2 separate regions of the Homo sapiens genome follow, and region 2 is linked to region 1. Evidence: fine-mapped expression QTL. A gene starts in region 1. The other region holds a variant in brackets. All regions are shown on one strand. Distances are between the middles of the regions.

What was found. PIP is the estimated chance that this variant, and not a neighbour inherited with it, causes the effect.
Region 2: its variant is the best candidate, but not a certain one, in a credible set for the expression of GALNT13-AS1 in tibial artery (GTEx, PIP 0.83).

Annotation. Positions count from the first base shown.
Region 1 is chr2:154,455,608-154,458,532 of GRCh38, forward strand. GALNT13-AS1 (GALNT13 antisense RNA 1) reads right to left here and starts at 1,831. Exons shown (of 5, transcript NR_161181.1): 1 at 1,759-1,831; 2 at 1,190-1,297. It also overlaps a transcript of GALNT13 not described here.
Region 2 is chr2:154,360,517-154,363,441 of GRCh38, forward strand. All of the region lies in intron 9 of GALNT13 (polypeptide N-acetylgalactosaminyltransferase 13), which reads left to right. Among named protein-coding and RNA genes, the nearest start is that of GALNT13-AS1, 95 kb to the right of the region's middle. The variant C/G (reference allele first, on the strand shown) is at 1,420.

The sequences.
Region 1 (2,925 bases):
ACATGGACACATCTGTTGTGACTACACCATGTTCGAACTGCTACTAAATATCAGCTATTGTATGAATTTATGGTGTTGAATGAGCACCAGCAATGTGTTTTAAATAATTTGTGTATATGTGTAGCCCAGTTTGTTTTATATTGGTCAATAAATTCTAAAGACAATTTTCACTGTATTTGTTTTAAAAGAAAAATCCCTCTGAAATACTGGTGAATTCAGGCAGCTCTTTTCTTAAGGATCCTTTAAGATAAAGACCACTTCTGCGATACTTGTGTTATGTTATATAAAGTTATTTTGTTTTTGTTTTTAGCTAGGGAGAACAAATCACTCAATATTCTGTTTTTAATGAGTTAGAATGAGAATGGAAAATTAGATGATTAAGGCTATATCTATAATGTTTTTTAAAAATGAGATTTTCATCATGCATTCCATTGGTGTGAAAACGAAAGTAAGCTGCTGCTTGGTTCCAGTTGTGCTGAAATTTCTGCTAAAAATAGCACAAGGGGGAAAAAAGAACTTGATGATTACATGTCTTTTTTTGTTTTTTTTTTTTTGTATTTCAGCTTTTTTTGTTTTGTTTTGTTTTGTTGTTGTTGTTGTTGTTGTTTTGGTCAGTGTAGCCACAGCTAGAAAGGAGTAATTTCAAAAATGTTTTAGATATATGCTTGGCACATGGTTCTTTAACATTTATAAAAGTAGATTGTGCATAATGACAGATTTTAAATACTGTAAGCATTATTAGATGATATAATTGTTCTTTTGCTGTAAATTTAAATATTCATACATTTTTGTAGAGTTAAAATATGCCAATTTAGTTTTCCTTTGGTATATATTGCCTTTTTGGAAAATAAATGGTTAACATTTCAAATAGATAAACAACGTCACTATTTTATGCTTAACCTCCATGTTTGTGGATTATTTAAATAAATGATTAAGTGCCTATGAATATCTCCTTGCACCAAGAAAATGTTGTGTTCCCAGTACAATTTTGTTATCAAAATATATAAAATAGAAACACTAAAATATGCATGATTTTAAAGCATTTATTTTTATTTATTTTTGATTCTGAAATGATTTGAGGTGGATTTTTTTTCTTTCTGTTTTATAAAAATGACTAAAAATAGAAAAATTTAAAAGTCTCACATCAATGATAAAAATTATTTTTCAGAATATAGACCATACCCAATACCTGGCTTCTGAGACTGGAATCCTAAGACAGTGTGTCAGGGTGAGAGAAGATGGAGAGAAGCTGCCCACTCCACAGCACAGCGCAGGATCAACTCTTCAGTCTTAACCACTAAGATAATCAAAAAGAGCATTTAATTTTCTAAGGTGGAGAAAGGAAGGAAGGGGAGGAAGAGGGAAGCAAGAATAAAGAAGAAGGAAAGGAAAGGAAAGGGAAGGGGAGGGGAGGGAAGGGAAGAGAGAAAGACGATGCTAATAATCTGTTTTCATAATTTTATTCTGAAGAGACTCATCTGAAAGTTCCTGTTCAGAAGTCCATTGATTTGCAAACATGAACACCTCGCTAGTTTTCCGCAACTTATAACTGTCAGCAAGTGTAAAGGACATTTCTAGATTTTGTCCCTTCTTGGCTTTCTGTAAACCAAGTGTGACTCCAGATACCCAACTCTGTTACTCTCTTTTCGGTTACTCTTGTCCACGCACAGCATACATTTCCAGCAGTAACCAGGTACTCAAGTATAACCTAATAAAGCAACCCCACCCACTTCAGGCTTTGATAGATCCATAACTTACCCTGTCTTGCTTTTCTTCAGCACCTGGTAGAAACAGAATGTGAGCTCTCATGCTCAGAACTGTGCTTTCGTCTTCCTCCTCAGCCAAGGAGACTCTTAGGTAGGCTTTCTGTTGACTCACTCATTTTCTGACATCATGAATTTTTTCCCCCGCAGGACAGAGGATATTAATCACCAATCTCTGCTTCCACTGTGGGAAAGAGGTGGTAGGTAGCCCACTGAAATTCTTTTGACAGAAGTCTCTTCACCAATTTTTTGAAGTGAAAAACTAGGTAAACATGCAAACATCTAAAACAGATTTTACAGTTTTCTCTGCAACACAAAACACCTGAACTTACTGCAGCAAGCACTCTATCTCCTACATGATAATATATATAAGGTGGAGGCTGTGAAATCAACATTGTCTAAACAATTGAGGTCAGAATTTAAAACACCCTTCCTTAAGACTAATGGGACCTGTGTTCTCAGCCCTGAGCCTGCAGCTTGCTTTCCCTATGTACCTGTGAAACGTTTTGGCTTTTAAACAACGACATGAAGTTAAGTTGCATATATAAAAGCACTTCAAATTTCTTCCTTTATTTATATGGACCAAAGGGGTGGAGAATCCATTTTTTCCCACATAGTTAGCTTTTTAAAACTCTAGTTTCCATTAGTGGATTTAGAATCATTTGCCTCAGCAGCTCACCAACTCCTCCTTTGGATATTCTTTCTTCATTTTTTGGTTTTCCTTCCACCTCATTGGCCATTGATTTCCAGTTTCCTTTGCTAAGCTTTCCCTTCTTTCTCCCATGTCTTAATATTGGAGTGCCTCGAGGTGCAGTCCTTGGCCTTCTCAATTTGCATTGACTCTTTGGTGATCTCATCCAGAAGCACATATTTCAATGTCTCCGATGCTGATGACTCCCAAATATCTCTATCCAGTTCAAAAACTGCCTACTTGACATCTACACTTGGATAACTAATAGACACCTGAAACTTGGTTTGTCCAAAACTTAACTTTTTGCCTTCTCCTACAAATCTGTTCAACCCAGAGATTTCCATCTCAGTTGATGGCAACTCCATTTTGCCAGCTGCTCAGGCCTAAAATCTTGGTATCCTTGAAATCTCTCTCTCCATTAGAAAATCTCCTTAATTCCACCTTCACAGTGTTTGCTGAATCTGACCACTT
Region 2 (2,925 bases), 95 kb before region 1:
TGCTTTCGCAGAAAAGCGAAAAACATTCCCAAATAAGAGTATATTTTTGTTTTGCTACTGGAATTATTCCTCAGATGGCTTGTGCCTGTTTTTAGAGTGATACAAATTTGCAACGTGTACCTATGTGTGGATGGATGTCTCATAAGTCTATTGTCATAAATGTGACTATTCAGTATATCTTTATTGAGCACGTATGTTGTACCAAGTAACATACTGTGTACTAGAAATTTAAAGAAATAGAAAGCAGAGCTCCTGCTTTCAAGGAACTCAGTTTGATGTGGCACCATGATAGCTCTCAGGCAATTTAAGTCTATACAAGAATTCAGAGAAGGAAGGATGAGATTAATCCAGCCAAAAAGGGTTGAGGCATTTGACTTGGGATTATAAAGATGAATCATACTTTAGAAGCATGGGGAAGGGGAGTGAAGATGGGGTTGGTTAAAAACCTAGGAAATTTGAAAACAAAAAATGAAAATACAAAACACAATTTGGAAAGATGGGTTATGTAAAACAATTGGAGCATGGAGTGAGTGGTGGGGAAGAAAGTAAAGTGATCTTGCATAAATAGCCTAATTTCTCTACATATTTTTCATATTAAACACCCAAAAGAACAGCTTATTTTTGTCTGATATTTAAGTTATGTTTATAAAGATTTTATTGAGCAGAATGTGATCAACACTGCTGGTATTACAAAGCATAGGGGCATGTTGTAGATTAATTTGTATGATGTATCCATATACGGTTTATATGCATATATAGCATAAACGCTTCCTTCAAGATTGGTATATGTGTAACCTAAATTAGTCTCTAGCTCCAATTCTGATACTGTTTAAGTATGTAACATTGGCTAAGTTATAACATTTCTAAAATGTAACTAGACGGTCTATAATTCTTTCAGCCAAAACCTTTTGGAGTGATCTTATGACTTTGTGATTCAAGGCTGAATATTTGGAATCAGACTGTCCTGGATTGAAATCCTAGCTCTCCTGCTTGCCAGTTGTGTAAACTTTATCATTTTGCTGTAATACAGTGCATTCTCTAATCCTCAAATCCCTCTTATATAAAACTAAAAATAGTGTCTATCTCATAGGATTGCCTTTAGATTTAGTGTAAAGTGCTTAGCCCATTTCTGTCACATAGTGAGTACTTAACAGATGCTGCCTATTACTATTGTGCGATTCCATACTGATTAGTAAAAGAATCATATCCACTTAATTTCTGGGCCTTTGAATGTCAAAAACTAGGCCTGTGTCATTCTAATAAGCATGATTAGGCTTTTTAAATAAACATTATTCACCTCAGTCTTGGGCAGTGATTTCTCATGCTTGAATTTTAGTTTTGGCTTTCCTAAGACTTCTTAGTTTAGCTTCTGGCACTCTTTCCAAGACTTATTTATTTTGGAAAACTAATATGACTCAT[C/G]TCTCAAGATAACTGGCCCTTGACTGCCATACTTGATTTAGTTTGCCCACAGTTCTTGGTAAAAGATCCTGCTACTACTGAGCCCAGTCCCATGGAATCAGCTCTAACTAAGCTATCACTTCAGACATAGAAGAGTAAAGAACAAAGAGTAAAGAAGGCAATGAAGATAAACAACTGAGTGTCCACAGGAACTGGTGGCACCCTATTTTCACAAAAGAATTGGCATTAAGAATTGGAATGGTCCTTGGAAGTTTCTATTCTAACACATATTTTCAGAGTGTAAAAAATGATCACAAATTCTACCCCCACCCCCACCCCACCCCACATCAAGAAGTGAGTCTATCTAGTTTCTCGCTTCTTGAGTCTGGACTAGTCTTATTACTTGCTTTTCTGACATACATGACATAGAATAAAATAGAGTAGGTTTTGATTCTCAGACTAAAGATTTGTATATTTCATCTCTCTCTCTCCCCCACCTCTCCTTTCATCTTTTCCTCTCTCTCTTTCTCTTTTTCTCTCGGAGAATGTTTAGCATATGAGCAAGCCAGTTTAAACTATTGGTGGGTGAGAGACCATGTGTAGAGAGGTCCCATTCATCCCAGTCTTTCTAGTCAAAGTCATCTTAAACTAGCCAACCCCCACCCAACCCAAAAGCTCTTGCCAAATGCAAGAGAAAACTTGATATACAAGAAGAAAAAATAAAGCCCAGCTAAGCCCAGACAAATTGTTGACTTACAGAATTATGAGCTAAAAAAACTGGTCATTGTTTTATGCACTAAGTTTTGCATAACTGCTATACTAAGCAATGCATGAATCACCTCTAAAATACTGCCTACAAGTGGCCAAATAGCTATTGCATTAAGGAAGAAATTTTCTCCCCACATTCATTTTCATGAGTGTGAGGATACTATATGGCTCAATAATTAGCGTAGGTCAACCTTTCAAACCCTTTAAAGTATTAAAGTAATCACGTGAGTTTTCATTATAACAGATTTAAATCACAAATGAAATTGTCAGTTTATTTTTGAGTTACCAAATTCCTTACACAGCTTTTAAAGTTGCATTGTACACTGTTTTGCTTTCTCATTTACTTTAACCCAGAAATACTTTCTAAGCTTAAGTACATTCAAAACTTGTTTTTTTCTCACCTGATTCTACTGATCTCTGGGATTTGTTATTTTCAGAATCCATTGTTTGTTTTGCTAACTTTTTCTCGCACTGTATTACCTTTCTTGGCTTAAAAACCCAATAGGCTTGGTAAGCCAGATGTACGCCTGTCCAACCAGCTCACCCCAGTTTGAATCACTACTCTTTCATCTTCTCTGCCTTCCCAGTATGGCTTAGATATTCTCAAGCCTTGGCTTGCTTCCAGTCTTTTCAGAACAGTATTCTGAATTATGTCTATAGCATTTGTTTTAACTTTTTTTTGTGGAGCGGGGGGAAGCTCAAATGTTCTGATTATTTATTCTGTGGATTTCTGCAGTGGACCAGTGAGGATTCTGCCTG